Homo sapiens: one gene and its partners. The protein of the gene in region 5 interacts with the protein of the main gene of each other region in a pairwise test. Each region holds a gene or a part of one and is shown on either strand. Other genes may lie near its edges. The genes, in order: NELL1, ABCA2, FRMD4B, KIF1A, RSPH1, RELN and RARB.

Region 1 (4,492 bases), on a different chromosome or scaffold from region 5:
AGTGGGTGCAAGTGAGAAGGGCACGTTCTTATTAGTGAAGAGGATTCTGAAACGTTGGAATTGGTTTCCAGGAAACGAGGGACGGCTGTTCTGAGGTTTCCTTGGACTCCTCTGGGATCCCTGTTGTGAATATCAAAGGAGTACTGCTGGTGAGGGGGAGCGGGGGCTTCAGAGAGAGTGGGAAGACTGAGCAAGCTAAGTGGAGTTCATTTGGTATAAATCAGAGGCTGTCATTTCAGATTTCATGACTCTACATATCCAGTTATAAATAACGTTCCTAGGTGTTAGTAGGACAAATAGGAAGTGGGACAGAAGTCTTAAATTTGGGGGATCTTCATAGGGAAGGTCAGGTCCTGAAAGGGTCGCATAGAGGGGAGAGGACCCATTCTCTTCTTGCCGGCAAGTAGAAAACAAAGCCCAGCCCAGCTTTTCTCTCCAGAGAATGTTGTGGTGGGAGAGGGAAAAGAAGGTGGAGGTCCCGGAGGAATTGCACATGGGGCCAAAATGTGACTATGAAAGAAGAGTGGGCTTTTGATAATACCATTAAGAAAATCACGCAAGAAAGAAAAAAAGATGGTTAGGAATTACCCCTATGTGGCAGCATCTGCCCTGCAGAATGAGAAGGTTTGCAAATAGACTTCCCAAACCCCAACCACAGCTCGCTCCGCCTCGAGGACCCCTTTTCTGCACCCCCACCTCAGCGCCCTCTTCCTGCACCCACAAAGAGAGTACTCAGTCATAGGGGTTCAACAGGAGAGAGGAGACAGAAGGTACAGGCGGTGAGCAGGGACTCAGCCATCATCCCCCTCAGGTCCCTCCCCACCCAGTTGACAGAGCGAATCCCGAGTAATTGTTTTCCGAGGGGGTCCGTGCGCGCTCGGTGGCGCCGCCTCGGTCTGGGTTCCCCCGAGGAAAAATACCCACCCGCGAGGGCTCGGCGGCTTTTCGACTCGGCGGGGATGAACTGTGGCAACTTCGGCAGCCCCCACCGCGGTGCGGAAGTAAAGAGGGCAACATTGGCGACTGCGGCTCGGAGGGGCTGGAGCGCGTGAAGCCGTGGGGGCGCCGTGCGCCTCCCGCTCTCTCGTTTCGGCCGCAGGTCCTGGGACTCCGACTTCGGTGCTCCGGGTGATAGCGGCTGCGGCGCCTGCAGTCCAGATCCTCGCAGTTCTGCGGGCGAAGGAGGCGAACGGAATCGGCCCCCAGTGGGGAGCGCAACAAGCCACAGTAGCCAAACCCCGCGCTCCTGCCCGGGCTCCCAGACGAACGCAGCCGCAGCGGGGGGCCGGGCCCCGAGCCCCACGCCGCCGCCGCCGCGCCAGCGGTGGGGGGCGGGCTGGGGGCGGGGCGGCCGGGGCTGCCTTCCCGGGCGCATATGCGAGCGCAGCACCCGGCGCTGCCGAGCCACCTCCCCCGCCGCCCGCTAGCAAGTTTGGCGGCTCCAAGCCAGGCGCGCCTCAGGATCCAGGCTCATTTGCTTCCACCTAGCTTCGGTGCCCCCTGCTAGGCGGGGACCCTCGAGAGCGATGCCGATGGATTTGATTTTAGTTGTGTGGTTCTGTGTGTGCACTGCCAGGACAGGTAAGCATGACTGTGGCGGTTAGAGGGATCCGGGAAATGGGGGTGCCCACAGACCACGGCGGCGTGGGGAGACCTGGAGCCGAGCTTTGCGCTGGTCTGGGGAACGGCGGTAGCGTGGACCGGTTCCTGGGATCTCTTTGCCCTGCTCGGAGTGACAGGGTGAAAATAGGGACTCACGGGCTTGAAGATGTCCCCGTTGAGTGCCCCTTCTCAGGGGACCCGGCCTCAGGGGCGCAGGAGTGAGGGGCGCGGCCGAGTAGGCGCACCCTCTTGCTGCTAGTAACCGGCTTTCCGTCCCAGGGAGTCGAAACCCGCAGCAGGGCGGGCCCGCGTGCCCCGAGTTCCCGAACTTGTAAGGTGCTGTGGAAACCACTCTCGCCGACCCCCGCCAGGCTGGGAAGGGGTAGCTGCGGGAGTCGCACCCGCAGAGGGAGCGCTTCCGGCTGGCGGGCGCGGCCGGGGCCCGGGAGGGCGCGGTGCGGCGAGGGCAGAGAGCTGCGGGAGAACCCTGGGATCCCGCGATCTCCTCCTGTGCCTTCCTGACTACCCAGGAGAACTCCAGGAGTATTCTCCTCCGCCTGTCTTTGCTCCCAAGGGCTGGGCGAACAATTATCTGAGGGAAATAGAGCAGTGGAGACAATCTGGGGAAATTTTCTCAAGCTCAAACCAGTTTTCTCTTGCCATAATCGCAGGGTTCCGTGTGGGGAGGGGGGAGCAAGGATGACGCTTGATTGTCTGAAGTCCCCACTTCGTTCTGCCTCCGGAGACGCAGTTGTGAGGACTCTCAGCGCATCTTCTTCCTTCTGCTTCCACCGGCTCCCTTGCCCAAAAGTCCCCTGGGGTTCGGAGACTGGCTTGCAGCCGCCTTCTTCAAAGAGCTAGTAGTAGATGCGGGGAGACTGGGGTGAGGTGAGGTGGGGTGAGATGTAGGAAATTGGCAAAAATAGGGCCTGTCAACTGGGGGGAGTGTCGGAGGTTTGCAATCCTACCCAGCCATCCTCCGTACGCGCTGCACCCCAGAATCTGTGTGGTCATTCCCTTTCCCTTTATTCTCCCCCCTTTACCATCCTTATTTCCTTCTTTAGAGGCGTGGCCTTCTCTCTAGGCCAAAGAGCAAGTTCATCTGGAGAGGGCTAAGAAGGGGCGTCTGCACTTGGTTGGCTCAAAAGTTCCCTCCGCTTGCGCCCAGGCGCCCCTCTTTGGCAGTTAGCCCGCTGGAAGATCTAGCGTCTAGGAGCTTTCAGAGGGCCCTTCCCACTTCCCCAGGACTGAGCAGGCAGCGGCTTTCGTCTGGTTAAGAATGTTGAATATGGATTTCTCAAGGGACAAAAGAAACCTCCCATTCCGTTCCTTACCTCTATCCGAGCTTCCCAGGCTGCGGAGACGCCAAGGCTCAGTCTAGCTTAGAATAGTTGCTTCTTGAGTTCAGGCCCATCCGGATGGGTTAGTCTTTTAAAACCAGGACACGCTGAAGGAGTGCGCGCACCCCAGGAAGATCAGGACAGGCAAGACTAGTGCAGAGCGTGGGCTACTGGCTCTGAGCGCGAGAGTCTGGTGCTCGTGGACATCTTACAGAGGAACCGCAGACAGGAAGAAGCTAGGTAGGGAGGGGGCAACCCGTTAGTGAGTTCACATCCCTAAGTGCACATCACTACGGAATATGCCTAAATCCTTTGTTCTCATTACTCCTTTGAAAAGTCGCCAAAGTACCCTTATCACGGAATGGAACGTGTTTCAGGGTTCATTGCTTGTGGAAGGGGTCTTTAAGAACAGGTATTTTCCCTCTTTCCACTTCCAATCCCCTTTAAATCTTGTAAAAATTTCGTTGTAGGGGAAGATTCATTCATGTCTTTACTCATTCAACAAACGATGTCTTGCTGGGTGCCAGGATTTCTTATGCAAAGAGGAAATGACAGTCCTTGACTTCTAGGAACTTAAAGCTCAGCTGGGAATCTAGATAGAAACTGGCAGGCATTTTAATTTTACAGATTGATGGGGGGGGTGGTGGAGAGGTAGGAGTATAAGTTTGTATTAAGGAAATGTGGAGGAGAGACAGTTTGAATTAATTCTAGGGAGGAGTGGTGGTCAGGGATTTGAGAGATGTACCTTCAAGGCTTTCTAGGGAGTTTTCCAGGTGGACAAAGTGGGAAGGCATTCTTGGCAGAGGGAGCAGATTCAGCAAAGGCAGGGAAGCATGGAAGGATCTGACCCACTGGTTGTGGCTGTTGCCTAGGGAGCTTGGGTTCTCAATGTCACTTGGCACTATTTGAACACTAGAGGCCGCATATTTCTTCTACACACATTATCGGAAGAATCAGAGAGACGGGGGAATTACCTCTCAATTTGTACACTTAAAGTATCTTGTAGCTTGAGAGGGTATAAGCGGTAGCTTTCTGGAGGCAGCCCTCTGATTCTGTGCAGAAATCATTTCCACATCATCCATCCACCCTCTTCTTAGGTAACAAAGGCTGGCTTGTGATTATCAGCATCCAAACAGCTGCGTTGAAAGTTTCTTTGTCAAGTGGGACAATTGTTGTCTGGGCTGTTAACAGTCCTAGATGAAATAAACATGTGGTTCACTTAGTGAGCTGCTCAGATATCACCGGCTTTTAATGGAACTGAGTAGATGATATCAGGCACATTTTAATTAAAGCAAGACTGCAGTGCAGACACAGTTGCATATGAAAAGATCTAATGATAGGTGTCATGAGGAGCTGCTTAAATCTGCCTTGTTCAGAGAACTTGTTTTAGAGTGCAAAGTGGAGTCAAGACGGGAGGTGCCATTCTCCAGTTCTTGTTATTTCTGGTTGAGAAATAATTCAGAGATTTTCAGGTACATCACTAATAATGAAAATTTAGAAGGCTACAATAATAGCAGTAATAACACACTATCTCTATGAGTTTTCACCAA
Region 2 (4,581 bases), on a different chromosome or scaffold from region 5:
TACCCCAGTTCCTACAGCCTCCGCCAGACGGCCCCTTATCAGAGAGCCTTCTGTGTCCCCCAAAAGGCCAAGGCGATGAGCCCAGGAGTTCGAGACCAGCCTGGGCAGTGTAGTGAAATCTCATCTCTACCAAAAATACAAGAATTAGCAGGGCGTGGTGGCTCACGCTTGTGGTCTCAGCTACTTGGGATACTGAGGTGAGAGGATGGCTTGAGCCCAGGAGGTTGAAGCTTCAGTGAGCCGTGATCACACCACAGCACTCCAGCCTGGGCAACAGAATGAGACCCTGTCTCAAAACAAAAACCAAAACAGGCCAAGGTTGGGGAAGAGTAGGGAACGGACGTCAGAGGCCTGGCCAGGCTGAAATCGCCCATCTCCCAGGCCCGCAGGCTGGAGGGTGTCTGGGGTGACAGGGTCTGACCTGTGCCTTGTAGCTCCCTCTGGTGGCCAGTGCTGGGGAGGCACTGGGGATGCGGCTGCAGCCAGGGAGCCCCTGTAGTGGACGGTGGAGAGTGGGGCGAGGAGGAGAGAGGCCAACCCACGGGTGGTGCTGACCAGGGCCCCAACAGGCTAAGCCCCCGGGGCTGGGGCACAGGGCTTGTCCCTACCCCAGGTAGGGGTGGGCAGGTTGAGGGCAGGAAGCCCCCCTCACCCATGGCTGTGGCTTGTGGGAAAGACCTGCTGGTAGCTTCCTGCCCTGACCCAGCCCTGTGGACTGAGCAGAGAAAAGCAAGTGCCTTGAGGCTGCGGGCTGGGGTGGGAAGCTGATCCCTCACTCACTAGCCCAGGGTCACCTTCCTGCTGCAAAGGAGCTGGGAGGAGTGGGGAGCTGTGGCCTCGGAGGTCTTCATTCACTTGAGGATGCGCCTTCTATGTGCGCCCTGACACTGGACACCACACAGCGCTACTCCACCCCATTCACAGGGGGGAAACTGAGTCTGGGAAGCGCCGTCAGAGCCACCCATGGGGTCAGCCTGTCCTCTGTCGCTCTCTACAGGCCACGCGGAGGAACTGCCCCACCTCCCGGGGCGCCCCAGCAGGTGCCAAGCCACAGCCGCAGAACCGCCTGATCCCGAACTCCCTGTGCAGAGACCAGACTCGCCCGAATATGGGGAGAAAAACGAGCCGCGTGCAGCAGGGGCCGCCTCGGTCCCCTGCCTGCTCCGCTCACGGCGAGCGTTCCTGGGGCCTCGAGTTTCCCCCCTTCCGCTGGCTGCTCGGAATCGCGGGACGGACCCACCTGGCCGCCCTGCCTCCCTTCCAGGTGGGCACCACCTGGACTCCAAGTGCTGGTTTACAAAGCACACAGGAGACCCTTACGGGGGTGAGCTGGCCCCTCGCCAGCGTCCGCTCGGCGCGCCCCGGGGACAGTGAAGGCTTGGGGCGCCTCTGCAGAGTCGCCAGCGCGGTGGGCGCAGCCGGATGCCTCTGGGAGAAGAGCGCAGCGCCCGAGGGTCCCCCGGCCTACGAAGGCTAAGCCGGGGTCTCGGATTCGATGTGGGCGCGTCGCGTGACGCCCGGCGAGGGGCGGCCCGGAGGCTTCCCGGCGGCGGCGCGCGCAGGGTCTCGGGCCCGGGTCGGTCCCGGGCGCGGCGCGGGCGGCGGGCGCCTCCTGGCGGGCGCGGACGGAGCGCGGCGCCTTTAAGCGGGGGCGGGCGGGGCGCGGGCAGAGTCGCTGTCGCCGCGGCCGCCGGGGCGGAGCCAGCGCGGATCGGGTCCCGGACGCCCGAGCGCCCCGCCCCCGCGCGGGCGATGCCCAGCGGCGCGGCGGGCTGCGGGGCCCGGCGGGGCGCGCAGAGGAGCGGGCCGCGGCGCTGAGGCGGCGGAGCGTGGCCCCGCCATGGGCTTCCTGCACCAGCTGCAGCTGCTGCTCTGGAAGAACGTGACGCTCAAACGCCGGAGCCCGGTGAGCCCACCCCACGCGCCCGCCCTCAGCCCGAGGCCGCGCGCACCGCGGCCAGAGGCGCGCTCCCCGCGCGCACGTGCGGACGGCCGGGCGCGCGCAGACCCCGGCGGGCGCTGGGGGCGGCGCGGGCCCGAGCCCCCTCCCCGCCGGGCCCTGCCCTCGCCTGCCGGCGCTGCGGCCTCCGGGGAGGTGGCTCGGTCGTGTCCAGTCCGGTCCCGCGTCCGCTGACATCGCGGTGCTCGGCTGAGTCACGGCACCCGCGCCCTCTGCAGCGCGCTCGCTGGGGCCGCTGTGGGCGGGGGGCAAGCGGCGCTCAGGACTCTGGCTCGAGGGAGGCCCTGGTTCCCAGGACAGAAGGCAGGCCTGGGGGGCTCCATTCAGCTGCGAGGCTCCATGGTCCTTGGGCCCAGCCTCCCTGGGGTCCCGGAGGAGACCCTGTCCCTTCCCTCCGTCCACCCCTCCCCTGCCCTTGGGCCGCGGCCTGCCATAGAGGTTGGTCCCAGGCATCTCTCCGCCTCCCCTCCTGGCACATCCGTGACCCTTGCTCATGCTCTCGCCACTGGGAATGTCCTTGTGCCAGCCTTGGCCAGCCTGAATCTCTGCACCCATTTGTCCTTTGGGGTCAGTTCTCCCCGAGCCTGATCCACTCTGTTGCCTCCTGGTCCCCCCACCTGCTCTGGGGGCTGGGTCTACTGTTTGGAGCTGTGAACCCCGGCTTTCCCAGCACTGCCTGGGCAGCCAGTGGACCTGAGGGTGCAGGACACATGGCTGTCAGGGACAGAAGTCCTTCGTGGAGCGAGGGGCTTGGGGATATGGGTGTCCTGCCATACCCCCAGCTGGCCAGCTTGGCTCCAGCCTGGGAAGGGAAGGGACACCTCCCAGGCCACAGGCCTGGACCAGCTTAGGTTTCTGAAGGCCCTTGGGATTGTCCAGGCCAGGGCTCAGAGCAGGTGGGGGCCTAAGGCAGACATCCTCTTGCCCAGCCAGGGCCCGGGCGGGACCCCTTGGGCTGCACCAGTCCGTGCCTGTTTATCTTTCAACATGCACTGCAGGAAACCCAGGCTGCAGTCAGCTGGGGTGGCCATCATCACCATGGCTGGCAGAATTCCCCTGGGCACCTGGCCTTGGCGGGGAGCCTGGGTTAGGTACATGCCCTGGCCAGGCACCTGGAGCTGGCTGAGTGGGGTCCCATGGATCAGGCCTGCAGCCCCTGGCATTGAGTCACTGGGGACAGCAGAGCAGGGCCAAGGGAACAGGGATGTGGCATGTGGCATGCATTAGTATTAGTCCCCGGGGGTGGTTGTCAGGAAGGTCCCCACTGGGCTTGGGAGCAGAGGCTGGAATGGTGGCCCCTGTTCCAGTGGGGACAATGCTCAGGGAAGGGAGTGTGGCCTATGAGGGCAGCTGGCAAGCAGGTGGGAGGTGTGCACTGTCCTGACCGCAAGAGTGACTCCCAGCTGCTGGTTTGGGCTGCCCCCCAGGACCTTTTTGGGTCCCCACCCTACAGGGCTCCCAGAGGCCCACTGGGCCACAGTGGAGGTCCTTAGCCCATGGCTGGAGCAGGTGGGGAACTGTTTCCCCCAGGGAGGCTGAGTCCTTGCCAGGCTTGTGATGTGGGGCTGGGGCTGGCTGGACACTGGGCACACTCCTGCTGGGTCCCCACTTTCCTGGGAAGGATCTTGGACATCAGAGCTGGACTCTTGGGGCCAAGCTTGGATGACAGAGGTTTGCCCTGTGTGCCATGCGCCCTGCTGGGGCAGGGGTGCACCCTGGGCAGAGCTCCACCCTGGGCAGAGCTCAGGGTCTGGAGGGTGGGTGCCAAGGACCTCTGTGCTGCTAGCAGGCTCCTCCAAGCTCTTTGCCTCAGTTTCCCTGTCTGTGAGTGTGGCCTATCTCCTCTTAGTTAGCTGGACTTGGGTCTACCCTTGGGCTACAGGCTGCTCTTGGTGCAGGGACAGGGTCACTGTCATGAAGTCACTGGGATGGCAGATGGCAGCGCCACCCTCGGGTCTCACCTGTTCTCCCCCCGACACAGTAGGCGGGAGCTACAGGGAGGGGTCATGCCCAGAGAAGGCATCTAGGCCTCCAGGCGATGTGAAGGCACTGGGCTGGTCTCGAGGGACGGAGGTTGGGCCACCTGGAGGCACCTGTGTGGGGCACCCAGGGCGTGCTAGACCTGTGCTGCCGCCTGTAACCAGATGCTGCTGTGGCGCCCGCCGCCTGCCAGCCAGGACTCTCCTCCTCCTCCCAGTAGCTCGTGCGAGGCCGTTGCTATAGCAATGGGGGAGGCAGCCGGGCCTGTTGCTGCAGTTACAGTGCCCATAGCAGGCCGGGTGTGGGCGGGGCTGGCGCCCCGTGCTGTGACCCCTGCCTCTGACATTGCCTCACTCCTGCAGCCACCCTCGCCCTGGTGCCTGTTGGTGCCCACAGTGCCTTGGCGAACCCTGGGCTCCGTCCTGGCTCAGGGAGCGGGTGGAGGCTGGCACGGGCTGGGGCGGGCATGGGACACCCACAGCATGATGTTCCTGGCCACAAAGCCCTATTGTCCAAGCACAGTAAACACAGCAGCCGCCCCCACCCCAGGGACCGGGGACTCGGCCCGGGCCACACAGCACACTGGGGGCTCTGAAGGGTTTTGGGATGGGGATGAGGACAAAGGATGCCTCCGAGCTGGG
Region 3 (3,909 bases), on a different chromosome or scaffold from region 5:
GTACACCAGATGGAAAGAGGAAAGGGGACGGGGGAGGAGAGAGGAGGAGGGAGAGGGGAGAGGGGGAGCGGGGAGAAGGGAGGGAGGGGAAGTGAAAGAGAGAGAGACAGAGAGAAAGAAAGAGAGAACAGGCAAGAGGCAGACAGACTGTGTGTGTGTGACGTGGTACTAATGTTCTTTGTAGGAATTTGGCTTATCTCTTCAGGTCACCTTTTTATCACAGGTATTTCCTCCCATCCCTCTGGCCTCTAAACATCCATAACCATCTCGGGACTGAAAAGTACCCACTAAGGACTGATTAAGAATTTCTCTTAAGGCCGGGTGCCATGGCTCAGCACTTTGGGAGGCGGAGACGGGCGGATCACCTGAGGTCAGGAGTTTGAGACCAGCCTGGCCAACATGGTGAAAGCCCGTCTCTACTAAAAATACAAAATTAGCTTGGCGTGGTGGTGCATGCCTGTACTCCCAGCTACTTGGGAGGTTGAGGCATGAGCATCACCTGAACCTGGGAGGTGTAGGTTGCAGTGAGCAAAGATTGCGCCACTGCACTGCAGTCTGGGTGACAGAGTAAGACTCTGTCTGGCAGTTGGGGGCGGGCGGAGGGGGGCGGGATTTCTCCTAAGATATTTGAGAACCCACATCCTGACTTCAGTTCATGTTGGTAATTTGGCTTTTTTTTTTTTTTTTAAATGACCAAGAACACCAACATTTTAAATGAGCAAAAGATCTGAATAGACATTTCTCTACTAAAGATATAGGAATAGCTAAGCAGCACATGAAAAGATGCTCAGCCATCATTAGTCATGAGGGAAGTGCAAATCAAAACCACAAGAAGGTACCACTTCAACCCACTAGGATGGCATAAACTATACATGCACACAAAACTAAAAATAACAAGTGTCGGTGAGGATGTGTCGGCATTGGAACCACATATACTGCTGCTTGGGATGTAAAATGGTGCAGCACTTTGAAAAGCAGCCTTGCCATTCCTCAGAGGGTTAAAGATAGTTACCATTTGACCCAGCAATTCCATTCCTAGGTATACACCCAAGAGAAATGAAAACATATGTTCATATAAAAACTTGTACACAAATGTTGATAGCAGCGTTATTTGTATAGTAACTGTGTCATACAGAGAAACGTCTTTGATCCTCACCTTCGTGGATCATGAACTTCAACAGCAAATTTTTTCTCACGGAAATATAAGTTCTCCAGCTGTTTCCATTGGAATAACTAAAGAAAACAGAAAAGCCAGGAAGTATTATTTATGCTTATTTTTACTAATTCTATAAATCAGCTTAATAATCAAACAATTATAAGCTCCAAGAAGGTACACTGATACGATGAAACATGAATATGTGATTCAGCCTTTTTACAAATCAACTATGACCTGAAACCATTTTATTCCTTCTTCTGGCAGCAATCTTTAACTATTAAGATTCACCTCGGCCGGGCGCGGTGGCTCACGCCTGTAATCACAGCACTTTGGGAGGCCGAGGCAGGTGGATCACGAGGTCAGGAGATCGAGACCATCCTCGCTAACACGGTGAAACCTTGTCTCTACTAAAAATACAAAAAAAATTAGCCGGGCGTGCTGGTGGGTGCCTGTAGTCCCAGCTACTCGGGAGGCTGAGGCAGGAGAATGGCGTGCACCCGGGAGGCGGAGGTTGCAGTGAGCCCAGATCGCGCCACTGCACTCCAGCCTGGGCGACAGAGCGAGACTCCGTCTCAAAAAAAACAAGATTCACATCACCAATAAATCTTCCTTGAACAATAAAACCAACCATCTGTGGAAGAACATGTACACTATTTTTCCTCTGACTCAACTATATAATAAGGAAATCTGCACAGATTCCAGTAAGCACCAGCCTTCTCAAAGATGTTGATTTCATAGTTAAATGGAAAGATATTCAAAGGGATATTTCAATAACATCAGAGATTGAATTTCAAAAGAATACAAAGTGAAAGTAAAACGGAACCCCCATGCAGGGGTGATTCTCTGAGATACCACTTTCCTACCTATGAAGAGTTCCCCTAAATGCCACAGAAACCTAGCACCAGTAATTGGGGGCAGAGAAGGGGTAGGAGGGAACACCAGAGCCTCTTCTTGGTTTCTGAGCTAGAACCTCCAGTTTTTGAACATAGCTAGCTCCCAGTGTCTGTACACTCTGATATACACACTACTGATACTCTATTGCGGCACTCAGTGCCGTCAGTTTGATTGGGAGGAACAAACTTTACTAGCAATGTGCATTTGAAAACCAAATAATTTGATAGAAAGCAGCTCATTCACAGAATTGAGGATGCCTTGCTATGTTTTCTGGGCTGCTTCCTAAGCTCTTTATAAGACATTGTACTATCCTGAGCCTTGGTTTGTCCTGTCAACTTGGACTTCATGGTCAAATTCCTCTTCTCTGCCCCCAGACTTGATTAGGGAAATAACAGCAGAGAGTTTCATTATATTATTAGACTTCGGCTGGATTTTAAAATTATGTTCAAAGAATCTTAAAAGATTATTTTTAATAGTCTATACAATAAGCACTTCTCTGCAATGCACTATCAGCAAAACCATTTCCTGACATACGGGAACCCAGGCTTTTCACAGACATGTAAACCTCATCATGTAAAGGAACAAAATGAGCTGAAGGTTTCTATACGTATGCAGGCATGGGAAAAAAGGGTTCAGACTGGACCCCCCAATTCCGAACAGTGAAATAAACCAGCACACCCTAAAAACACAGCCCTCCGGGGTCCGCACACATAGCTGTCTGTAACTATAACACTCACTCAGGTTCACAGAAGAATTAATAAAAGTATAAAGTTACATACCCATTTCTTAAAATCTCCACAAACTTGAGGTTTTCATTTCTTTAAATCCAGAGGTTCCAAAAATGGGACAGAAATGTGAGGAAAAACCTCAGGGTTCTTCCGCCCTCCCCCCTCCCAGACGGCAGCTCCGGTGAGTTCTGAACTGAGTTTCATAAGACACTTAGGTGTAACTCAATTTCACAAACTGAGCCTCCCACGGCTGACACACTACTGACATCAGCAACTCTCCTGAGTGACACCTCCCTAATTCTACTCCTTCCTCCCATCAGGGAGAGGAGGGCAAAGTTCTCAGTGGCAGATTTTCCCAGAAAAGAGACCTTTCTAAAATGGAGGGCAGTTGGGATTTGCCTGATACTTCCTAGGAAGTAAGTTGCTTTGAATCCAAGGACGAATTTCACCGGAGGCTGTTTTAGGAAGACATTTCTACCCTAGTTTACTCACCCTGGACATGAACAGGTTCTACAGGAAGAGTTACAATGCAGCTCAGCTGTGTTTTCCTTTGCGTCCATTCCCACACACATAAAAACCAGGGCTGGACTTGAAACATGATCTCTGAAAGTCACCACCTCCCCCTCTTATCACTTACAAATGTGAAACCCTAGCGCTTTGGACTCCATTCAGCCTGTCCCTGCATTGAGAGCAAATACGCTCCCTGCAAGCAAAAACTCTACTTAAAAGGCGAAGGACTTCAGCTTAGAGAATTTGAAATAACTGGATTGTAACTGGGTTTGCACAAGGTTATGGGAACAAGACTGGGTTTAAAGCATGAAAGGCAGAGAGCAGTTCATTCCCCTGCCTGAAATCTTAAAAGTTTGTGCAAAGTATGATTTCATATATGTGCATATAATAATATAAATGTGGATTGGAATGATACAAAATTCAGTGATTACTTCTGGGGGCAGATGGTATGGGGGGTACGTTGTATAGAAACTTGAATATCATTAGTAATGTTTTCTTTTATTAATAAAAATAGGATGAAAAATGACAAAATATTAGTAACAGCTATTTAAGTGGTTTTACAGGTATTGTCATATCTTTAGGACTCTTGGAATTTCTCAAAATTAAAGTAATAAAAGTTTA
Region 4 (3,909 bases), on a different chromosome or scaffold from region 5:
TTGTCGCCCAGGCTGGAGTGCAATGGCGCAGTCTCACTGCAACCTCCGCTTCCCAGGCTCAAGCGATTCTCCTGCCTCAGCCTCCCAAGTAGCTGGGATTACAGGTGCCTGCCACCACGCCCGGCTAATTTTTGAACTTTTAGTAGAGATGGGGTTTTGCCATGTTGGCCAGGCTGTTCTCAAACTCCTGGCCTCAGGTGATCCACCCACCTCAGCCTCCCAAAGTGCTGGGATTACAGGTGTGAGCCACCGCACCCATCCTCCATGTGCTTTTAATGGCAGTTAACTCACTCTACCATACTTAGTGTGTGGGTGTTGTCCTTGGGATGCAAGATGGCTGCAGCACCACCAGACATTGTGTCTGCATTCCGGGCAGCACAAAAACAGAAGTGTTCCATCCCCACAGCACCCCCAGAGTCTGCAGTACATAGGCCGTGGCCAGACCTGGGCTGTGGCCTCCCTTCCAAGTGCAAGAGGTGACTGGAAGTGTGGGCGTTTCTTGCTGGTCATAGTAGTGAGGGAGAGGGAGGGTGGGGAGCAGTGGGCAGGGGCATCTGCAAGCACATCCCCTCTCCTTAGTTACAGCCGAATTATTCCAGCTTCACATGGGGATGGTGTGACCATCTCACCAGATGGTGGTGAGGTTGCCGTGAGGAGGCGCTGGCAGAGCTCTTCCCAGCGAGTGCTTGGGACTCTTCAGCCATGCACAGCAGCTGCCCCCACTTCAGGAAGACAAAGGGGCCAGCTGTTCAGCAGTTAGCGTGTCATCCACCAGGAAGTCATTTTCTGTGGTGTTTGGGTTAAAATGTGCACATTCAAACAAGACCTGGTTTGATCCTCACAGACATTCCAGGGTCGGGGAGGGGTCACCCCAATTTTATGGTGAGGCAGCTGAGGCCCGAGCAGTGAGCCTATGTCTGGGACCCTCGGGGTCCCCACACATGGAGACCAGTCCCTCAGGCAGCCCAGGGGTGGACAGAGCTGTGGCTACCTGTCCCCAGTGGGGTTTTCTCGAGGGCAGGAGCAGAGACTTTCTCCTGCCTGCGTCCAGGCCACACCTGAGGCCCTGGGAAGGCCCTGGGGCTGCCTGTCGGTGCTGGGCATTGTGCCCCCAGGAGAAGGCTGGAAGGGCACCTGGGCACTCGGGGTGTCCTTGTGCCTGAGTCCTGCTCCCGCCTATCTCAGATGGAGAACTGCACCCAGCCGGCTGTTGTCACCAAGGACTTCTGCATGGTCTTCTATTCCCGTGATGCCAAGCTGCCAGCCTCGCGCTCCATCCGCAACCTCTTTGGCAGTGGGAGCCTTCGGGCCTCAGAGAGGTAAGCTCCCAGGGGTGAGGACCACATGGACTCCCACCCTGGTCTCGGTGCGGGCCAGGCAGGGCTCTGCCTGGCAGCGGTCCTTGGGCCACCCGGCAGCTCACCCTGTGCGAGGCCCAGCCACACTCCTGGCTGGCTCCCTGCGCTCAGTCCCCTCCTGCTCACCCTAGATGAAGACTCTGTGGAGGCCATGGTTCCTGCAGGGGACACTGACACCACTATGAGGGACTTGAGGGCCAGCCTGCAGCGGATGGGAGGAGGGGCAGGCCCAGGGTGCCCACCTGGGGCCTCCTGTGGGTGATCCTGGGGCCACACCGTTCCCCCCCCCCCCCCCCCGCCGCCGGTGACCTTCTTCCCTGAGGACCACGGAACCTGTGCCATGGGACTGACTGCCCACAAGGCACTGAAGGAGGAGCTGGATAAGTGGGCGGTGGCTGGAAGGGGGCTCTGGACACAGCTTCCCACAGGACCTGCTGGGTGGCTCTTCTTGGAGGCTGTCAGCACCTTGGGGAGCCACACACCGAACACCAGGACCAGCCGTGCTTGCGTGCTGAACACGCTCCTGATTCTTGGGGGTGGGGGAGAATGAGCCGGAATGTCAGGGCCCTGACAGCAGGGCTGCCGAGGCTACCGGGCACCCGTGGCCACCTTCAGTGGGTCTCCCTGTGGTCTGCCACATGGACCTGGTGTCCAGGTTCACACTGGGCACAGCTGGGAGGAAAGAGCTTGGGGGTCAGGATCCAGTGTCCTTGAGGGCTGGCTGTGGTCATTCTGGAGGTCACTCAGTAATTGTGGGATGCCACCGACCTGTCTGTGGGAGGGTGGCCGAGGTGCTCTCAGAATCTGTCCGGGGCACAGTGGGGCTGCTCTGTGGGGTATGGGGCCTGAGGGGCTCTCGACGCCGTGGAGGGACTGGAGATGCCAGATGCTGTGCTCATGTTGCCTGTACCCCACTTGGGCTGGGACAAAGTGGAGGCTGCTGTGGGGGCCTGGCCTCACGTCACAGCCCCATGGGCACCTGAGCAAGACCAGCCAATGCATCTTTTCTCTGGGGGCCGGAGGGAGTCTGGGATGAGGACTCTGAACAGGGGCTGTAGCTCAGGGACCTCAACACCCCATCACCCCAGCCAGGCTGACTGTGCGTTTGATAGTGGGGCAAGTCAGCAGCCAGGCTGGCTGTGTGTCCCTGTTGCGGGGCCTGGTGACTGCATGTCACTCCTTCTACTCCCCACAGTAACCGTGTGACTGGTGTGTACGAGCTCAGCCTGTGCCACGTGGCTGACGCGGGCAGCCCAGGTAGGTATCTGCCCTGCTCTCACTGGGTGGGTTCCTGGCCTGCTCAACCTCTGCCCACTTGGGGTGACCACAGCGAAGCTGCCATTTGCAGGGGGATCCCTCACAGAACCCAAGCACTCACCTTGTGGCTTCTGGAGTTGTTCTGAGATGGGAGGAGAGCGAGGGAGGAGAGTCAGGCCTGCTGGCTTCCTTGGGTTCCCAGGGCACAGCCGAGATGGCCATGGGACGCCGGGCTGGATAACTTCCTATGGAAGAGGCCTACATGGCTCTTTGGGCCCCAGGGTGGACCAAGGACCAGGGGAAGCCCATCTCCACTCCAGAGGGGAGACAGCTTCACAGATGGGCGGACCTCTAGGATGGGTGGGAGGAGCAGCCACCCATCAGGTAGGGGTGGAATGTCCACGTGCCCCATGCAGGGATGCAGCGCCGGCGCCGACGAGTCCTGGACACATCTGTGGCCTATGTCCGGGGCGAGGAGAACCTGGCAGGCTGGAGGCCCCGGAGTGACAGTCTCATTCTGGACCACCAGTGGGAGCTGGAGAAGCTGAGCCTCCTGCAGGAGGTGAGGCAGCCTCAGAGGATGAGGCCCGCACGGTGGTGTCCATGTGGCTTTGTGTGCAGAGCAAAAGCTGGAGAGGGCCCAGGGCCTGGTGCCTACTGGGGGGCAGCACAGCTGCTTGGGAGTCACAGCCACCTGCAGGAGGAGCATGTGATGCTCCAGTGTGCACTGCGGGGCTGCGTGGTGTATGACAGAAACATGGCCAGTGTAGCACAGAGGCATGCTCTGGAATTAGCCGAGGAAGACTATCGGGCATATAGACAGAGGCCAGAAAGGGACCCGGAAGGAGAGTCGCGGGGCTGGGCTGCCCTCTGCGGCTTTGATCAGGGAAACCAACATGCAGCATCTAGGCACTGCCTCGGGCCGAGTGTGTGTGTGACACGTGACGCGTGACGTGTGAGATGCGTGAGGCCAGGGCTCTGCCCACCCCTCGGCCCTCTCCTGAGGCCTCCAGCACTGCAAGGCAGCACAGCCCTGCCCCAGAACCTGGCGCGTGAGATGGATGTGTCTGAGAGGAGCAGCTTGCTTGCTGCCCATGAAGGTGGCAGGGCTGGGGTGGGGGCTGAGGGCTGTCAGCCCCGGGGCGCCAGGGTCTGTTCCCTCATTTCACAGCTGAGGGCTGTCAGTCTTCAGTCTTAGCCCAGGGGAGGGTGGGCTCTCCGGGGTCTGCCCAGAGGGTCATGCTGCTGCTGAGGCTGAGCACAACTCCGGAGGTCACCCCTGAGGTGCAGCAGG
Region 5 (4,382 bases):
ATTCTTAAAACAGTGCCCACACACAGTGTCAGAACTTAGTAAACACTGGTTACTGTCATTGTTAGGACAAATTTGAAAGCTAAATTTCTGACATTTTAAATGTAAAAAACGAGTATTTATTTGCATATACTTATGTTACCATTCTAGATTTCTAACATTTAAAATGCTTCTGGCATTTTATTATAAAAATAGGACATGCTTAATTGTAGTAACTGGGTAACTGCCAATATGTAGAGAAGAAAATAATAATCATCTGTTATCCCTAACTCCCCACTTTTCCCCATAAGAAAAGCTGTTAAATTTTGGTGTTTACAACATTTTTATCTTTGCATCTAAAAAACGACATAATTTTGGAATCTCGTGTGTTGTTGTAACTTGTGTATTTATTCAGTAAGTAATATATTTGGGCCTGATGATGGGTTATGGTTGTAACCTTTCATATTAGCATTGGGAAGAATCTCTAGGGGATGTGTGCTCTGGAAGATCAGCAGCTTATTCACCGCGTGGATTTGGCTTCTGGGATTCTCCCATCAAGACCAAATCCTATAGTTATTCAGTCACTCCTCCCCAGCTCCTGCAGCAACAACAAATAACACAGCTTTGCAGTCTGGGATGATGGCAGAGGAAATGGGAGATGTGAGGGGCCTTCGGCAGGCGGAGTGCGTCAGGTAAAGCAGATTTCCAAGCCTGCACGTGTACATGCGTGTGCGTCTGTGATTGTGTGGGTGTGTGACAGTGTAGGGGAGCCAGGAGCGAGAGGAGAGGACGGCGATCGTAGGGGACACCTGAGAGTCAGAGGCCCGAGGGGGCTGGGACTCATGTCGAGGTCGGGGAAGGATGTAAAACCCGGACGGACATCACTGTAGGCCGCACCTGCTGAGAGGCCAGAGCTGCCTCCTTGAGAGTGAAGTTGTTTACAGACAAGAGAAGAGATCTTGGCGGACACATCACAGCTAGCCGCGAATCCCGAAGGGTCAGCAGAGCCTAGAAAGGTAAGTGGGGGTGGGCAGCATCCCCGGAGGGGCCTGCGAGGCCTGGGGGCGGAAGGGAGCGGGCAGTGCCCGCACTGGGCAGGGGTGAAACCCTCTCGAGAGTTGGCCCGGACGCGTTTCCCGCGTCCTTCCTCTTGAGGGCCCAGTACCCAGGTGGCTCCTCGTTGTGGCGTCACAGAACAGCCGACAAAAGTGATGGATTTCAGGGGCCAGCGACGGCGAGGTCCAGGTCAGAGAGCCGGTGGGCAGCCAGGCACAGAACCCGCTCAGGCCCTGCCCAGTCCCCGCCCCCTCGCTTCCCGAGCAGTGATTGGCCGAAGCGGCCCCTCGTTGCTATGACGGCACCAGAGTGCTGCCACTGGCTCCACCTCGTCCCTTCCGCCCCGCCCCTCCGTATTCCCGGGCGGTGATTGGTCGAGGTGCCCTTCCCGTTGCTATGACAGTACGCAAAGGCTGCCAGTGGCTCCTCCCGCTTCGTCCGCGTCGCCTGTCCCCGCTCCCCATCTTCCGGGCTGGGAGGGAGGCGGGACCGGCCGCGTCTCCATGGCGACGCGGGACGCGGCGGTGGAGGCGGTTGCTACCCACCTGCTAGAGGCGCTGCGGCTGTGATCCAGGCTGGGGCGAGACCATGTCGGACCTGGGCTCGGAGGAGTTGGAGGAGGAGGGAGAGAATGATATTGGGGTGAGAGCTCCTGGTGAGAAAGGGCTTCCCAGGGTGCGCAGCGGCGGGGGAACCTCGAGGTTGGGTTTGGAGAGTGAGGAGGCGCAGAAACCAGAGGTCTGAGCCACAGCTCCCCAGGATCCCCGGCAGGGACGAAGGCCACGCCAGACACACCTGCGTGCGTCCTGGAAGTTGATGGTGAAAAGTGAAACGCTGTGACGTCTGGTTACCACATGCCGCCTCGTTCTTCCCCCACCCCCATCCTGCCTCCCATTAAAGGCAAAGATTTCCCAGCGGAAGGCTTTGGAAGTTTCCTCCTCCCTGTGTTAATTCCCATCGAGGCAGTTTTCTCGGATGAGCAGATCATCCCACGCTGCCATACTGCCCTTGAATAAGTCATTTCTGTAGCTGAGATTTGCTCCCCCGGCATTTAGATGCATGGAGGATAGTTGCTTCCTGGCAGCCTCCAAGAAATGCTGAGGAGGCCCTGGGCTCAGGAGAGGGTTCCTGAAGATATTACCTTATAGGCGTATCCTCACATGTGCTTTCTTCAGTCCCCATCTGAACTGACCCAGGTCTTTGGAGTTATTTCCTGAGTTAGGCAGCAGAGAGGAGAAAGAGGGCACATCCAGCCTGTGAGCTGGGTTCTGTGTGGGAATATTTCTATCACCCAGAGAGTAGTTCCTCCCTACTCCAGAGAGTGACCTCTCCATGGCTGACAGATAGGGAACCTCAGCCACTATGGTCTGCATGCACAGTACAGAGTTGAGGTACTTTCAGAATTAACTGAAAAATCTAGCGACTCTGCAGTGGTGCTGTCAGTGCCTGCCCAGACCTTTTTGCTAGCTCTGGGCACTCATCTCCCAGCTTCCGCCTGATTTGCTACTCAAGCTATCACCTCTGTGCGCTGGAACTACCTGCCCAGTATGGAGAGCCAGAAGTGCCTGAAATTCACATCCGGCCAGACAGCCAGTAGCTAGTGCAAGAAGCAGGACAAAGTCTGCAGTGCGATTGATGCCCCCAGAGTCCCTGTTGGATTAGGCCAAGTCTGGGACTTCACCTGCAAAGGCATCCTTCCTTAGCTGCCTGCCCTTTCATGTCTACTTCCCTGCCCTCTTTACTACTTTCTCCCAGGAGAGCACTTAAAAAAATCAGGCCAGGCGCGGTGGCTCACACCTGTAATCCCAGCACTTTGGGAGGCCGAGGTGGGCAGATTGCCTGAGCTCAGGAGTTTGAGACCAGCCTGGGCAACACGGTGAAACCCTGTCTCTACTAAAATACAAAAAATTAGCCGGGCATGGTGGCGGGCACCTGTAATCCCAGCTACTCGGGAGGCTGAGGCAGGAGAATGGCTTGAACCCGGGAGGCAGAGGTTGCAGTGAGCCGAGATCACGCCACTGCACTCCAGCCTGGGCAACAGAGCGACTCTGTCTCAAAAAAAAAAAAAAATCACTTGTTCAGGGTCTGTTTCTAGGTGAACCCAACCTGCAACACTTGACCAGCAAGATTTCTAGTTTGTCTCCTCAAATGGCCCCACTGATTTGTAACTTTTTAGTGCCTATAATTTTTAGGTTCAGATCACATTTGGGGTCATTTTAAAGGATTTCTGTCTTATTCAGCCACCCCAGCGGCTCAGTGTTGGGTGTATTGGGAAGCCTCTTGGATAGAAGGAGGGGACTTTTGTACATTTTGATGTAAACTAACCCTGAAACAAATCTGTGAGGTCGCAGATTTTTACCTTATATTCTAGGCAGGAATTAGTGGTCCAAACAGTGCTAGAAAAGGGCAAGAATTGCACAGACGTTTATTTCTGAAGTCCTCAATGTAGTGTGTCAGTACTTGTGTTATAATAAGTCTATATACATCCAATTCAATTTCTTAATTTTAATTTTTAATAAATTTTATTATGTATATTTAAGAAATACAGTGTGATGTTATGAGATACCCATGTTAAATCATTACTGGATGCTTTCAGCATTTTATTATTTACTATATTCACTCTATACCCATGTATTAGGTGCTAAGGAACATTTATTTTCTGAAGGATAGGAAAATTGCAAGCTTTGATCACATTTTTTATTTATTTACTTTTAAGATAGACACATAATTGAGCAGGCATGGTGGCTCATACCTGTAATTCCAGCACTTTGGGAGGCCAAGGATCGCTTGAGTCCAGGACTTTGAGACCAGCCAGGGCAATATAGTGAGACCTTGTCTCTACAAAAAAATTTTGAAATTAGCTGGGAATGGTGGCGCATGCCTATAGTCTCAGCTACTCAGGAGTCTGAGGTGGAAGGATCACTGGAGCCTGGGAGGCGGAGGTTGCAGTGAGCTGAGATTGTGCCACTGCACTCTAGCCTTGGCAACAGAGTGAGGCCCTGTCTCAAAAACAAAAACAAACCACAGATAGATACATAATTATTGCAGCATTGGGTCATGAGTGTTCGAACCTTAAGTCTCTTGCTAGGGGTCTTAAAAATAAGATAAACTTAATCAGCAAGGGAGCCCTGTGTACTCCTCAGTGCCCTCCAACCTGTCCCTTCCATCGGAAATTCCTTGCAGGGCAAAGGTCTCTTCAGGCCACACCCCGCCCCAGGGATCATTTGAGGGAAGAGTTGCTTCTCTCTGGGCATTTGCCTTTGAAATCCTGGATTACTGAAGGAAGCAAACGGGGAGGTATTTGTGTGGACTTGAACTGTTCTACCCGCATGTACTATTTCAAGCATGTT
Region 6 (3,909 bases), on a different chromosome or scaffold from region 5:
TTATGTCTTTTAACTCAGGGCTTATTGTTCAGTATTCAAATGACAATGGGATACTCTGGCATTTGCTTCGAGAGTTGGACTTCATGTCCTTCCTGGAACCACAGATCATTTCCATTGACCTGCCACAGGACGCGAAGACACCTGCAACGGCATTTCGATGGTGGCAACCGCAACATGGTAAGTTACTGCTCACTCCAGCTTTCTGGTAGCTTTTAGGTCATGAAGTATCCATACCCACCTTGCACTGTGTGTTTCTTAATTTGCTGTCAATTTCTAGACAATTTGATTTAAAATCACAGTCATGAAGATATTCATATTGCTATGTAACAAAACTTCTCTAACCACCTTTATTCATCTGATTGCAGGGAAGCATTCAGCCCAGTGGGCTTTGGATGATGTTCTTATAGGAATGAATGACAGCTCTCAAACTGGATTTCAAGACAAATTTGATGGCTCTATAGATTTGCAAGCCAACTGGTATCGAATCCAAGGAGGTCAAGTTGATATTGACTGTCTCTCTATGGATACTGCTCTGATATTCACTGAAAACATAGGTATATATTGTCACCAGATAAAGGGAAAATATCTGATTAACTAGAGGACTAAATTAACTAAAAGTCAGGAGAAAACTTTCTAATGCAAAACCGTGTGCCTAACTACCCATGCTGAGGGTGGCTCTCAGTGAAAAAAAAGTTTTATTGTGCTAAGACAACTTGGTGATCCTAGTGACGGTTTTTGTTGGAACTGTCTTTCACAGAACATGAATGATATGAGTAAGGTTTCTTAGAAGAGCAAAAAAATCTATGAGAGGACATTCCTATGTTTCATAACTTGTAGACTTAAGACTCTATGTTTAAAAAAAGATAGATGTTTGAAGTGCTGGATATCCCAATTACCCTGATTTGATCATTACATATTGTATAAATGTATCAAAATATCACATGTAACCCAATATATGTATAACTGTAATATATCAATATTTTAAAGATAATATGTTAGCCCTTTCCAAGGTGGTAATGCTTTTCAAATTAGCAGCCTTCTATATTTCTAAATCTATGGTAACCAAATAGAAGCAGAAAATATAAGAAGAAAAGTCAAAGCACATAGGGGGCACTAAAGATAGGCCATGATTTTTGTTTGCTATTGAAGATGTTTATTATAAGCATAAACACCAAATAAGAAAATGGCACACATATATGCTACCATTACACATTTTTTTTTTTCAGGAAAACCTCGTTATGCTGAGACCTGGGATTTTCATGTGTCAGCATCTACCTTTTTGCAGTTTGAAATGAGCATGGGCTGTAGCAAGCCCTTCAGCAACTCCCACAGTGTACAGCTCCAGTATTCTCTGAACAATGGCAAGGACTGGCATCTTGTCACCGAAGAGTGTGTTCCTCCAACCATTGGCTGTCTGCATTACACGGAAAGTTCAATTTACACCTCGGAAAGATTCCAGAATTGGAAGCGGATCACTGTCTACCTTCCACTCTCCACCATGTGAGAATTGTCATTTGGCTACATGTCAGAACTTTGGGTGCCTGTCACTTAATTTGAAAATAATTGTGATTCGGCCTGGGGATTCTATTATTCTTTCATGATAATTATGCATGGAAGTGCCAGGAAGAAAAAAAAGTGCAAGGTGCTTTGGGTTGCAAGTTTTAAATGTGGCTAGAGAGCACCAAAAGTTTTATGAGGCTGAACTTTTCTGTTCTTTGCCAGCATAAAGGCTGCCCACCAGATTCCATTTTTAAACTGTTGTAAAAATAAGTCTCTGCCCATAAACCAGACTGATACTTATTCACACAAAACAGTATGTGAAATTACCACATATTGGAGAGTATCCTTAGTTTTTTTTCATCTCAGTACCACAGTATGAACAAAAGGTTGGTTCCTTTGGAATGCTCATATTGTTTTGCATCTGTCTTCCCCTCCCCAGCATTTCAGATCACATTCAAGAGTTGTACTGACTTACAGCAGGCTTCCACTTTTGTGGTGTAGGCATTTGGATCATTGGAGGATGTTTCTGGGAACTAACGGGTACTGTGGTGACTGGTTAGAGGCTGTACCTCCTGTGACTGCTCCCCCGAGATCCTTGCCTCTCCATTCCTGTGCTCTGTTCTGAATGGCAGGCTGCATTTCCCAGCCTCCTACATCTGTCAGACACTGCAGGAGAATGGAGGGGAGAGATAAGGGATAAATCAGGGTGTTCCTCCCCCCTCTTTCTGCCTCAAGTGCATCTTGGCCAACTTCTGTGGCTCTAGCTCCCCTGGGTGGCCCTCCAGGTGACCCTGGTCCCTGGGCACCAGCAACAACACTTCCTCCCTGTGTCCCTACAGTCTCAGACTCACAGTAAGTGGCTTCCTGACTTTGCTAAACTCCGGTTTCCTCACTGCTTCTACTGGCTTCTCTGCTCTGCCACTTGCTATACATCCAATTCCTTGCACTAATTTCTTTCTGTGTTAAGTGTTTATAGTGGTTTCTGTTTTCCTGGTTCAAACCTGATCCAGACATGTACAACCAAGAGGCAAGGGAAAATTCAGGAAGCCAAAACATTTTAGTATTTAGCCTAAAATAGTTTCCTATGACTGCTAAAGCTTTAAATAGTGCTTACTTGTTTGTAGCTCATTTATTCATTTTTTAAAAATTCAACAAACACTTATTGAATATCTACTGTGTTTTAAGCACTCTGGTACTACATGAATAAGCTGATGCCAGGATCCAAATGTGTTAAAGTCATGCATCACTTAACGATGGTGATACATCTGAGAAATGCATCGTTAGGCAATTCCATTGTTGTGTGAACATCATAGAGTGAACTTACATAAACCTTCATGGTTTAGCCTATTACACACCTATGCTGTATGATATAGCCTATTGCTCCTCAGCTACAAAGCTGTACAGCATATTGCTATACTAAATACTGTAAGCAATTGTAACATAATTCCAAGTATTTGTATATCTAAACATATCTAAACATAGGAAAGGTACAATAAAAATATGGTATAAAAGATTTTTAAATGGTACACTTGTATAGGGCACTTCCGATAAACAGAGCTTACAGGACTGGAAGTTGCTCTGGGTGAGTGGGTGAGTGAGTGGTGAGTGAATGTGAAGGCCTAGAATATTACTGTACACTACTATAGATTTCATAAACACTATGCACTTAGGCTCCACTAAATTTAAAAAAAGAATATTTTTCTTTCTTCAATAATAAATTTACCTTACTATAACTTTTCCATTATATAAACTTTTTTTAAAACTTTTGGACTCTTGTGATAACAGCTTAAAACACAAGCACATTGTACAGCTGTACAAAAATGTTTTCTTTCTATCGTTATTCTGTAAGCTTTTAATATTTTGAGAACTTTAACTTTGAAAACTTCTTTCTTAAAAACTTAGACACAAAAATACACATTATTAGCCTTGGCATACACAAGGTCAGAATCATCAAGATGTCAATTAGCAATAGGAATTTTTTTTCAGATCCATTATAATCTTATGAGACCATTGTCATAAATGCAGTCCATCATCGACAGAAACGTCATTATGCAGCACATCACTGTATTTAGGATAACAAACCTCTAAGCAGCTGTTTATGCTATAAGATGATACCAGAGGAAGTACTCAGAGATATTATTGAAACACAGGAGGGTACTACCTAACTCATTTGGGGAGAACTGGAGGGAGCTTTCTGAAGGAGTTGATGTCTCAGCTGACTCTGAGTAGGGCTTATCCAGGAGAAGAGGGGAGCAAAAGGGCATTTGTGCTGGCATAAGCCAGAACAAAATCCAGGAAGCCAGAAAAAGCATGGGTGGATGGGGAAATTCAAGGGCTCAGTGTTGCCAGAATATAATTGCAAGGTAAGAAGTAGGAGGTCTGGAGCCAGGAAAGAGGACAGACAATGGA
Region 7 (3,909 bases), on a different chromosome or scaffold from region 5:
CATATAGAACAAAACGTGAGGGATTTCACGTTGTCAGAGTTAATCCTTGGTACTCCTTTTTTTTTTTTTTTTCTTTTTTTTTTTTTGAGATGGAGTCTCGCCCTGTTGCCCAGGCTGGAGTGCAGTGGTGTGATCTCAGCTCACTGCAACCTCCACCTCCCAGATTCAAGTGATTCTCCTGCCTCAGCCTCCTGAGTAGCTGGGACTACAGGCGTGTGCCACCACACCTGGCTAATTTTTGTATTTTTAGTAGAGATGGGGTTTCACTATGTTGGCCAGGATGGTCTCGATCTCCTGACCTCGTGATCTGCCCACCTCGGCCTCCCAAAGTGCTGAGATTACAGGCGTGAGCCACCGAGCCCGGCCTTGTATTTACTTTTGAAAGTACAAAGTTCCCATCCCCATCTGCATCAGATGACAACATTGCTAAAGCCATTTCATTTGCTACCAGCCCTGAAACCACTTAGCAGTTTTCCTCCCCTTTTTCCTTCTTCCCTTTCTCTTAAACCCAGATTTATTTTCATTTTATTTTATTCTTTGCCTTCCAAAGTATCTGATTTGAGATTTGGAGGAGGAGAAAAGTCAAACAGAAGGATTTTATTTCTTAAAATTCACAGATTCTCCTCAGTCCACTGCTGTCTTAAAGATAGCTTCTTATTTTTTAAGTTTCAGTGTTTGACAAAGAATCACTGTCCTAATTTGACCCATATTTAGTGGAATGTTTGCTATGTTGTTGTTGATAAATTACTATTCATCACAGAATAAAATTTTGTCAAGTCAAAAAAATAGCTAAATTCAAAATAATGTGCAGGTAAAAGAACAAATAAGATGAGTGCATCGGTTAACTAGGGAGAGAAGATCTGGATCACATCCCAATTTTTTTCCCATTTCCAGAGCAAATGAAGACCTCATGTAATAAATTTGTCTTCTCAAAAATATTAAAGCTTTCAACGGCTACAGTACCTTTGTCATGTCATCAAAGTCCATAATTATAAAAAGGCCGATGATCTGAAGGCCATTTCAGCTTCAAAAGATTTTTTTAGGGGCTGGTCTATTGGAAAGCTTGGGGGTTTAATTAACTAAAATGGAAATGGAGGCAGCGAAATTCAGTTCCTGATGTTTTAATTTAGCTCAGTACTGCCATGTGTTATTGAAGAGAATTCTTAAAGGCAAACATAATTATTTCATTATGGTCCTCAGAATGCTTTCATTGGCTTTAATGACAAGAAGCTGTATAAAAAGGCATATATTTTAATTAGTCCTTTTTATATTTACATCAGATAAACAACAAATAATTGATGAAAAACAAGTCTTTGGAATGGATGATTTCACATAGTGCACTGGTTACAGTTTAATGATGAAACATTTCTCTGTTGCTTTGCATTTTAATTATATATACATTATATTACAGTAGTCGTGCCATGGAGCTACTAAAATACCGTTGTTGCCATTTTATTACAAAAAAAATCACGATTAATGCCTAGAAATTGAAAGCTGAAAAATGTAGCTAGACACATCTCCAAGGAAGTAAATTACCGGTTCCATTAATTTTACTACATTTGTTAGAACTCATTTTGATCACTTTTATCTTTTACGCTTCATCTTTTTGGATTAAGATCGTCAGGGGTTTCATATGCTTTTTTATGGCCACATCTTCTCCTGAGCACCTTTCTTTCGCTCTTGCTGCCTGTTTTGAGGATTTGCATGTGAAAGTGCCTTGCCAAATGTGCACTGGAAATTCAGAGAGCTTTTTTTCCATGCTATCGGCTTGCTTTACCTTTGATTTTATATGAAAACCCATTTCACATGATTCATCCGTTTTGGTGTACAGAACACTAATTGTTATTATTGATTTTAAATTCCGTGACCATTACAAGTAACCCAGATGACTGGCAGATAAAGGGTAATAATCCATGGAGTTCTGGAACTGTTTCATGTTTGTCTGGAGTACTTTATGTGATCAATATTAACTGCCCCATTGAAACTAACTGCTGTATCAAATAACAGTCAATCAAATGAATGTGCTTAGAGATTATTTATTGAAAGCTTTAATTGTTCACTGGGGCCCTCCTTATCAGGGGAAACAATACAAACTAGAGGTAGGATGAACAGGTTTGGATTTGCAGGGAAAGTTGGGGGATGCAGATGAACAAGGCATCTCTCTGCTTCTCGGGCAAGAGTTTCCAGAAACCCATGTTGGGCTTATAGTTCAGGCAGAAGTTGTGAATACTCTTCCAGAGCTTATCCTATCACCTGTACCTCAAAGGCTTTCTAGAGAAGGGGGTATAATAATTTTCTTGCACTCAGCAGAAGCTGTGAAAAGTTCTCCCTTTCCAAGAGTTTTACTGCTGCTTCTCCCTGGTCCTCTCAGAATTACCCTTCCATGCATCTCTCCACCTCTGCTTCCCCATCATGGCCTGATGGTCCAAGATAATGCAAGTAGCCTGCCTTGACACAGGATCGGTTTCTACAGCTATGAAATGGGAATAATAGTGTCTACATTGCAGGATCTGTAGAAGGATTAGAGATCATGTAAATTAAGATTCTATTCTTGTCTTGAAAACATATGGAAGTCACCAGGTAGGCCTTCTGCCCTGATTTTGGCATGACACCTGTGGCTTACGTGCCTTTGCTAAAAGCAAACTTTTTTTTTTTTTTTTTGGTCATATCTAAATTAGGTATCTCTTTTCTTTGGTGAAATGATCCCTCGGTCTATAGCTCATAACCTAGGTGGCAGTCCTTTCTGTTTGTCAGGTAGCACTGTGCCCTGATTCAGGGGCATCCATTTACCAGATCCCCAGATTTCTTGCAAATGATTGACTTTTACAAGTGAGCATTGTCACCTTCAAAGTTGTCACAATACACTTAGCCCAAAGATGCTGTCGTGGCACAGTACATTTTTATTGCTCATTGATGGATTAGTTTTTGCAACGTGCCATTCAGCAAATGGCTCTTGGGTGTCTGCCATGTGCCAGGCTCCTTGATATGATCTGTGGGGGACACCAAGATGAATCAGACACTGTCCCTTCTCCCTCTGAACTCATGATATAATGGGAAGAACTTGTGACACAAGTCGTTGTCACATAACCCCCTTATAACAAACCCAAAAATCTCCCCATGTCTTTGAACCTAAGATTGATAATGGAAAGAACTAAGAACTGCCAAGAACCACAGCTGGTTTATATGGTGGGTGATCAAGTGGATTATACATTTTTGTCACAGTGGAGCGGGCGTGAAGTTTTTCTGTGTGCAGGCCTCATAGATCATCTCTAAAAGTAGTTCACAAAGGAGTTCTAAACCTATCTTACACAGTGGAATAAGTGCACACCTTCCAAACTAGCTTCTTGAAGACTTTCATGTGGATGTTTCTGGAGCGTGTTAAGTAATCATGTTCCTTGGGGATGGGTTTGATTCTATTGGATTTTTAAAAATCACTTATTTCTCTATGATTTCTGTGACTTATTCCTGTGTAACAAACCATCCCAAAACTTCCTGGTCTAACAATTTATTATGACATTATTCTGTGGATGGGCTGGGCTCCGCTGGGCAGACCCTCTGCTCCGCATGCTGTCAGCTGGGGCTGAATCATCCATGGCTAAATTGGGCTGGCAATCCAAAAAGTCTCACTCTCATGGCTGGTGGTGGATGTTGGTTGTCGGTGAGAGCTCTAGGGGATCTGCATGTGACTTGTGCATGTCACAGCATGGCAGCAGTATTCCGAGAGAGAGTGTTTCGAGAGTGAACCTTCCAGGAAGGAGGCAGCAGAGGCTCCCAGTCCTCTTAAAACCTAGACCCAGAGAGTGGTATACAGTCGCTTTCACTATATTCTGCTGGTGAAGCAGACACAGGGCCAGCCCAGATTCAATAACTACCTTTCAGTTTGGGAGAGAAAGGCAAAGAATGTCCACC

Evidence for each region.
Region 1: the proteins of RSPH1 (region 5) and NELL1 interact in a two-hybrid assay, tested with the Homo sapiens proteins (one large-scale study listed by BioGRID and IntAct).
Region 2: the proteins of RSPH1 (region 5) and ABCA2 interact in a two-hybrid assay, tested with the Homo sapiens proteins (one large-scale study listed by BioGRID and IntAct).
Region 3: the proteins of RSPH1 (region 5) and FRMD4B interact in a two-hybrid assay, tested with the Homo sapiens proteins (one large-scale study listed by BioGRID and IntAct).
Region 4: the proteins of RSPH1 (region 5) and KIF1A interact in a two-hybrid assay, tested with the Homo sapiens proteins (one large-scale study listed by BioGRID and IntAct).
Region 6: the proteins of RSPH1 (region 5) and RELN interact in a two-hybrid assay, tested with the Homo sapiens proteins (one large-scale study listed by BioGRID and IntAct).
Region 7: the proteins of RSPH1 (region 5) and RARB interact in a two-hybrid assay, tested with the Homo sapiens proteins (one large-scale study listed by BioGRID and IntAct).

The regions. Positions count from the first base shown.
Region 1 is NC_000011.10:20,668,198-20,672,689, forward strand, and holds the start of NELL1 (protein kinase C-binding protein NELL1 isoform 1 precursor), read left to right. Parts: upstream 1-1,388; 5' UTR 1,389-1,526; coding exon 1,527-1,581; intron 1,582-4,492. UniProt on the Homo sapiens protein: Plays a role in the control of cell growth and differentiation. Promotes osteoblast cell differentiation and terminal mineralization.
Region 2 is NC_000009.12:137,025,400-137,029,980, reverse strand, and holds the start of ABCA2 (ATP-binding cassette sub-family A member 2), read left to right. Parts: upstream 1-1,743; 5' UTR 1,744-1,840; coding exon 1,841-1,906; intron 1,907-2,069; exon of another isoform or gene 2,070-2,517; intron 2,518-4,581. UniProt on the Homo sapiens protein: Probable lipid transporter that modulates cholesterol sequestration in the late endosome/lysosome by regulating the intracellular sphingolipid metabolism, in turn participates in cholesterol homeostasis.
Region 3 is NC_000003.12:69,197,542-69,201,450, forward strand, and holds part of FRMD4B (FERM domain-containing protein 4B), read right to left. Parts: exon of another isoform or gene 3,280-3,909; coding exon of another isoform or gene 3,271-3,279; intron 2,969-3,270; exon of another isoform or gene 2,830-2,968; intron 1,234-2,829; coding exon 1,157-1,233; intron 1-1,156. UniProt on the Homo sapiens protein: Member of GRP1 signaling complexes that are acutely recruited to plasma membrane ruffles in response to insulin receptor signaling.
Region 4 is NC_000002.12:240,722,681-240,726,589, reverse strand, and holds part of KIF1A (kinesin-like protein KIF1A), read left to right. Parts: intron 1-1,185; coding exon 1,186-1,319; intron 1,320-2,553; coding exon 2,554-2,615; intron 2,616-3,031; coding exon 3,032-3,177; intron 3,178-3,909.
Region 5 is NC_000021.9:42,493,425-42,497,806, reverse strand, and holds the start of RSPH1 (radial spoke head 1 homolog), read left to right. Parts: upstream 1-1,582; 5' UTR 1,583-1,620; coding exon 1,621-1,674; coding exon of another isoform or gene 1,675-1,687; intron 1,688-4,382.
Region 6 is NC_000007.14:103,562,869-103,566,777, reverse strand, and holds part of RELN (reelin isoform a precursor), read left to right. Parts: intron 1-18; coding exon 19-177; intron 178-365; coding exon 366-554; intron 555-1,226; coding exon 1,227-1,500; intron 1,501-3,909. UniProt on the Homo sapiens protein: Extracellular matrix serine protease secreted by pioneer neurons that plays a role in layering of neurons in the cerebral cortex and cerebellum by coordinating cell positioning during neurodevelopment.
Region 7 is NC_000003.12:25,434,474-25,438,382, forward strand, and holds part of RARB (retinoic acid receptor beta), read left to right. Parts: intron 1-3,909. UniProt on the Homo sapiens protein: Receptor for retinoic acid. Retinoic acid receptors bind as heterodimers to their target response elements in response to their ligands, all-trans or 9-cis retinoic acid, and regulate gene expression in various biological processes.